Linked DNA regions of Homo sapiens. The protein of the gene in region 1 purifies or fractionates together with the protein of each later gene. This does not show direct contact. Each region holds a gene or a part of one and is shown on either strand. Other genes may lie near its edges.

Region 1 (3,500 bases):
CAATAAGGCTTTGTAGATGGTGGTGTGGACTTCCTATTGCATTACGTCAGGAAGTGTGTTGTCTGATAGACCCATTTTTATTAAGGTTAAAACAGATCAAAGGGTTCAGAGGTGGCCAGTTTGATAGATCCACCATAAAAATCTCGCTATAAAATATTTCACCTATTAGTTGTAGTACCCATTGAAGATCATGTTTTCTGGACCCATTATTCCATTAAGGTCTAGAAAATGGTGATTTTTCTAATCCTCTAATTCCTTCTAGATTTATTAGACTTCTTCAAAAAAGAAAAACCCATTCAAAAAACAAATTTTTTTTTTGAGACAGGGTCTCACTCTGTCACCCAGGCTGGAGTGCAGTGGCACGATCTCAGCTCACTGCAAACTCTGCCTCTTGGGTTCAAGTGATCCTCCCACCTCAGCCTGGGACTACAGGTGTGTGCCACCATGCCTGGCTAAATTTTGTATTTTTAGTACAGACAGGGTTTCACCATGTTAACCAGGTTGGTCTCAAACTCCTGGCCTCAAGTGATCCACCCACCTTGTCCTCCCAAAGTGCTGGGATTACAGGTGTGACCCCTGTGCCAGGCCAAATTCATTTGAATTTGATGAACTTCTGGTGACCCTGAAATTTGGTTCACATGGGAAAAGGAAACTAAATGACAATTTTTCCTCTGATTTATTGATTTCAAGAATAATGAGTTGGGCTGGGTGTGGTGGCTCATACCTGTAACCCCAGCACCTTTGGAGGCCAAGGAGGGAGGATCACTTGAGCCCAGAAGTTCAAGACCAGCCTGGGCAACATAGTGAGACCCTTTCTCTAAAAAAAAAAAAAAAATTTAGGTGGAAGAATCACTTGAGCCCAGGAGGAACAGGGTACAGTGAACTGTGCTTGTACCACTGCACTCCAGCCTGGGGGACAAAGTGACACCCTGTCTCAAAAAAATTATACATTGGTGCTCTAGCATCTTTCATAGGTTACCAAATTATGCAGCCACAATCAAGTAAACTATCAAATTATTGGTGGGATCACATCAAAAACTCAACTTGAAACAACTCCTACTGGTTGAAGATATGGCATTTTGAGCATCCAAAAGTATACTGACTTATAGAATGATGTTTTGTTTCTTTCCCACAGGAGTTTTATACACACACATAAATATACACAACAATATTAAATTCCTAGGTGGTTAATTTCTTTTAAGCCACATTTTTGATAGTTTCTAATTAATTTTAAACTGTGGTCAGACAACAGGGATTGTAAGCCTTTTGCTTTCTGGAATTATGGGAAAATCATTTCCTATTTCCCTCTAATTCTTCAACAGCTGTATTACTAGTGACCTCACATTCATGAAATTCATTTTTGGCATGAAATTTCTAATGCAGCTCAAGTGCTGAAGAACTTCCTACATTCACTACAATCTAAATTTTACCTAGAATAAATTATGTTTAATAATTTCTGAGAGGTGACAGGAGGCATTTCTACATTTATTATGTCTACAGATCTTCCTTTTACGTGAATTCACTAATACTAATGACAATAATAACAATTACAGATAATATTTACAGAATACATGCTATATGACTGTGATTCCTCCAAGTATTAACTACTTACTCCTTGCAACAATCCTATTCCACAGTGTGGCAGGCTGACTCTAAACAGGCCCCCCAGTGGTCCTGTCTCCAGGACTTATTCACACTCTTGTATCATCCCGTTCTCTTGAGTGTGGACTATCCTAGTAACTTACTTCTACCAGTAGAAGGTGAGGGAATGTTACTTCCATGATTAGATTACACAAGATGGTAACTTCCATCTTGCTAGCAGACTGTCCTCCCTTTTGGCTTGCATGCCTTGATGAAGCAAGCAGCCATGTTGATGAGGCTATTGTGGCCAGGAGCTGCAGTCAGCGTTCAGCCAACAGCCAGCTAGAAACTGAGAATCTCAATGCAACAGGCCTCACGGAAATACATTGGGTAACAACTATGTTAGTCTGGATGTGGATCCTTCCCCAGTTGAGCCTTCAGATGAGACCTCAGCCCTGGCTGAAATCTGTAGCCTTGCAAGAGACCCTGAAGCAGAGGACCCAACTAAGTCATGCCTATACTCCTGATCCAAATTATAAGATATAATTATATGTTATTTTATGCTACTAAGTCTGTGGTAATTTATTACGCAGCAATAAATAACTAATACATATAAGTACTATTATTACCATTTTACAAGTCAGCAAAATGAGGCACAGAAGCTTAGTATCTTGTCCAATAAATCAAACTGGTAATCAAGTGGAGAAAGGGAGATAATGACAGATAAGGCTAAAGATTTTCCTACATTCATTACATTATTCTCTCATAGGAATTTGCTGAAGATAAACCATGTTTAAATGGTGTTGGAAGGCTTTTAAATCAACATATTCTTTCTCTAATATAAAATTTATTATGCTTGGAATTGAGCATGAAACACATTTTCTCAAAAATGAATTTTCTGATGTTCTGTAACATCATATACATTTGAAGGCTTTCTTCTATTAAATTCCATTATGAATCTTCTGATGCTGAGTAAGGTGTGAATGCTGTCTAAAGGCCTTCTTACACTCCTTACACTTGTAGGGCTTCTCACCAGTATGAATTCTCTGGTGTTGAGTAAGAAATGAATAAAGTCTAAAAGCCTTACCACATTCCTTACATTCATAAGGTTTCTCACCAGTGTGAATACTCTGATGTTGGGTAAGTTGTGAGAGCAGTCTAAAAGGTTTTCTACATTCCTTACATTCATAAGGTTTCTCACCAGTGTGAATACTTTGATGCTGAGTAAGTTGTGAGAGCAGTCTAAAGGCCTTTCCACACTCTTCACATTCATAGGGTCTCTCACCAATATGAATGCTCTGGTGTGAAATAAGCTGTGAGTAACTACTAAAGGTCTTCCAACATTCCATACATTCATAGGGTTTCTCACGAGTATGTATTCTCTGATGGCGAACTAGTTGTTGTCTTAATCTAAAAGTCTTCCCACATTCCTTACATTCGTAGGGTTTCTCACCAGTATGAATACTCTGATGAACAGTAAGTTGTTGGCATATTCTAAAAGCCTTTCCACACTCCTTACATTCATAGGGTTTCTCACCAAAATGAATTTTCTGATGTACTCTAAGGTCTGGACCACATACGAAGGCTTTCCCACATTCCTTACATTCATAGAGCTTTTCAGCAGTATGAAGTCTCTGATGGCGTGTAAGGTGTGTACACTGTCTAAAGGTCTTTCCACAGTCCTTACATTCATAGGGTTTCTCACCAGTGTGAATTCTCTGATGTCGAGCCAGTTGCTGATGTACTCTAAAGGCCTTTCCACATTCCTTACATTCATAGGGTTTTTCACCCGTATGAAGTCTCTGATGTTGAGTAAGTTCTTGGAGCACTGTAAAGGCCTTCCCACACTCCTTACATTCATAGGGTTTCTCACCGGTGTGAAGTTTGTGATGTCGAATAAGATGTGCACGCTGTCTAAA
Region 2 (3,500 bases), about 21 Mb from region 1:
ATTAGCATCAGTCATAGTCTGTAGGAGCACTGGTTTCTGATAGAGGTAGAAGTTTTCCTTACTTGGCACTAACTCATTTTATTTTATTTCATTTATTTATTTATTTTGAGATGGAGTCTTGCTCTATTACCCAGGCTTGAGTGCAGTGGCACGATCTCCACTCACTGCAATCTCCGCCTCCTGGGTTTAAGCAGTTCTTCTGCCTCACCCTCCCAAGAACCTGGGATTACAGGCAGGTGCCACCACACCCAGCTAATTTTGGGGTTTTGTTTGTTTGTTTTGAGACGGAGTCTTGCTCTGTCGCCTAGGCTGGAATGCAGTGGCATGATTTTGGCTCACTGCAACCTCTGCCTCCTGGGTTCAAGCGATTCTCCTGCCTCAGCCTCCTGCGCAGCTGGGACTACAGGCACACACCACCACGCCCAGCTAATTTTTGTATTTTTAGTAGAGACAGGGTTTCACCATATTGGCCAGGCTGATCTCGAACTCCTAACCTCGTGATCCACCTGCCTCGGCCGCCCAAAGTGCTGGGATTACAGGCGTGAGCCACTGTGCCCTGTAATTTTTGTATTTTTAGTAGCTAATTTTTGTATTTTTAGTAGAGATGGGGTTTCACCATGTTGGCCAGGCTGGTCTTGAACTCCTGGCCTCAACCAGTCCACCCCCCCTTGGCCTCCCAAAGTACTGTGAGTACAGGCATGAGCCACTGCATCCAGCCCTAATTCATTTTATGTTGAGAAATAGTTTGAAAGTTGAGAAGATAGGAAATTTTATGTATATATAATAATACTTATTTCCATATGACCATGCCACCCCAAATAATTACTTTTAAGAAATAATTGTTTTTTGTTTTTGTTTTTGTTTTGAGACAGGGTCTTGCTCTGTCACCCAGGCTGGAATGCAGTGGCGCAATCATAGCTCACTGCAGCCTTGACCTTCTGGGCTCAAGTGACACTCCCACCTCAGCCTCCCAAGTAGCTAGGACTACAGGCACATGCTGCCACAGCTGGCTTTTTTTTTTTTTTGTAGAGACAGGGTTTCACCCTGTTGCCCAGGCTGGTCATCTTGGCCTCCCAAAGTGTTGGGATTACAGGCATGAGCCACTGCCCGGCCCAGAAATAATTGTTATAATTGTTATACACACTTTTTAATGGGAAAACCAAAATAAAAAGCAGTTTCTGTTTCAGATTTAGAACAGGGAGGGGGGTATTATTTGCTTTAACATGGTTTTGAAGCTAACCTCCATCCTTGTTTGAATTCCAAGTGGCTCACCCTTCAGGGATTTGAATAGTTTCCTCATTTAACAGAATGATAACTTGGGTGTTCATTTCTCAAAATAGGCTACTGGCTTAAATGTTTAAAAATTTTTATTTGGGGCCAGGCTCTGTGGCTCACACCTGTAATCCCAGCACTTTGGGAGGTTCAGGAGGGTGGATTGCTTAAGCCTAGGAATTAAAGACCAGCCAGGGCAACATGATGAAACCCCATCTCTACAAAAAAGTATAAAAATTAGCTGCGAATGATGGCACGAACGTATAGTCTCAGCTACTTGGGAGGCTGAGGCAGGAGGATTGTTTGAGCCTGGAAGGTCGAGGTTGCAGTGAGCCGTGATCATGCCACTGCGTTGCAGCCCGGACAGAGTGAGACCTTGTTTTTAAAAAGTAAATAAATAATTTTTTAATCTAGTCCTCCTGGTATAGCAAGTTAAACATAGCCTGCCTTTCCATTGGGTAATATTTTCTGACGGTCTAATTAAACTGTGGAATCTAGAGGTTTTGGTGGCTTTTCGTTGAGAGAAGGGCCTGCTGGCAATCCTATACCAAAGGTTAGGTAGTCTCAGGTCATTTCCCTGTGACTTGCTTGTGGAAATTAACCCCACTGTCTTTATGTTTAGGCTTTGTCCAGGGATCTGAAACCACTTTGCAGTCGACATACTCGGATACCAGCGCTCAGCCCACCTGTGATTATGGTAAGTGTGGACTTCTGGTGGGAACCAAAGTGTTCTGCAGAGCAGTTCCTTGTCTTCTTAGTTGCCTTTGGCTTTGCTGTCACCCTGTCATGCTTTTTTAAACCTAAACTTGTGTGAAATGGTGTGGCCATTTGAATAGCTAGTGCTTCCCTTTCAGGCAATTATGGGAAAAGTAGCTGTGTTCCTGAGCAAGTTAGGCTCTTTGATAAAAGGCCTGGCTTCAAATCCCCATGGGGGAGGGACTGGGAGTCACAGTGGCCAATTAAAGTCCAAAGGAGGCCAGGCGCGGTGGCTCCTGCCTGTAATCCCAGCACTTTGGGAGGCCGAGGCGGGTGGATCACTTGAGGTCAGGAGATCGAGACCATCCTGGCCAACATGGTGAAATGCCATCTATACTAAAATACAAAAAATTAGCCGGGCATGGTGGTGTGTGCCTGTGGTCGCAGCTACTCAGGAGGCTGAGGCAGGGGAATCACTTGAACCCGGGAGGCAGAGGTTACAGTGAGCCGATATCATGCCACTGCACTCCAGCCTGGCAACAGAGCAAGACTCTGTCTCAAAAAAAAAAAAGTCCAAAGGATTGGTCCAGGAGAAAGCAAGCTATTAACTTAGTCCCAGCATAGTGCATGTCCTTGCTGTGGGAGAGAGGCTGAGTGTGTGAATCTGGCAGCTTTTGGAGACTCAGCCAGGCCACCTCAAGCCAGCAGGCTCCACACACACAGAGTTGAGTGAAGATCTCTGATTGAGTTTTCCAGCGTGGACAGAAACACCTAATTAGCTAATTCAGAAGTAGCCACCAGTAGGATTCACAGATGCTGTTTTGTTTGTGTGCTGTGGCAGCCCGGACTGCTGTTAAAGCTGGTTTTTGGTTGTCTGTGACTCTAGGGGTATCTGTTGAGAAGGAGCCCTCTTTGGAATTAACAGGGATAATGTCTTAGTTACTGAGATGGGTAATTTCTTTTACTACCAAGATCTGGGGAAAGACTGATCCTACACAGCTAACATGCCTTCAGGGGTCACTGCATAAAGAGACTTAAGTAAGCTCCCCAAGTAACAGCAGCTAGTCCCAGGAAAAGGGAAGACTTAAAATATTTTGAAATTGAGTGAGAAGGTATCAGGTGTCTCATAAATGAGGAGAAACTTGGTTTGCTTGACTTCCCTGTGCTGCCCTCCCTGCCTCTCCCTTTTCATCAAATGTAGTCCCTAATTGCACATCCTTTTGAATTATTTTCCCTCTGGATTGCATATTCTGAGTACAAGCCATTTCTCGGATATGCCATTTACAAATATTTTCTCCCAGACTGTGGCTTGTCTATTCTCTTGTCAGTGTGTCTTGTCTTGTGTCAGAAAGAACACAAGTTGTTAATTTTGAAGCCCAATTCAATCTTTTCTTTAATAGATGATGGTTTTGCTTTTATATCTAAGAAATCTGTAATATTTTCTTTAGAATTTTCTTTTAGGTGTTTTAGTTGTGGGTTTTACATTTAGTCTGTGATCCATATTGAGTTAATTTTTCTACAAGGTGTGCAGT

Evidence for each region. Proteins that work in one complex are often made in the same cells at the same time.
Region 2: the proteins of ZFP14 (region 1) and AKAP8L purify together in Homo sapiens (co-immunoprecipitation; one large-scale study listed by IntAct). This does not show direct contact.

Annotation. Positions count from the first base shown.
Region 1 is NC_000019.10:36,337,702-36,341,201, forward strand, and holds part of ZFP14 (zinc finger protein 14 homolog), read right to left. Parts: coding exon 2,523-3,500; 3' UTR 1-2,522. UniProt on the Homo sapiens protein: May be involved in transcriptional regulation.
Region 2 is NC_000019.10:15,408,989-15,412,488, reverse strand, and holds part of AKAP8L (A-kinase anchor protein 8-like), read left to right. Parts: intron 1-1,894; coding exon 1,895-1,969; intron 1,970-3,500. UniProt on the Homo sapiens protein: Could play a role in constitutive transport element (CTE)-mediated gene expression by association with DHX9. Increases CTE-dependent nuclear unspliced mRNA export.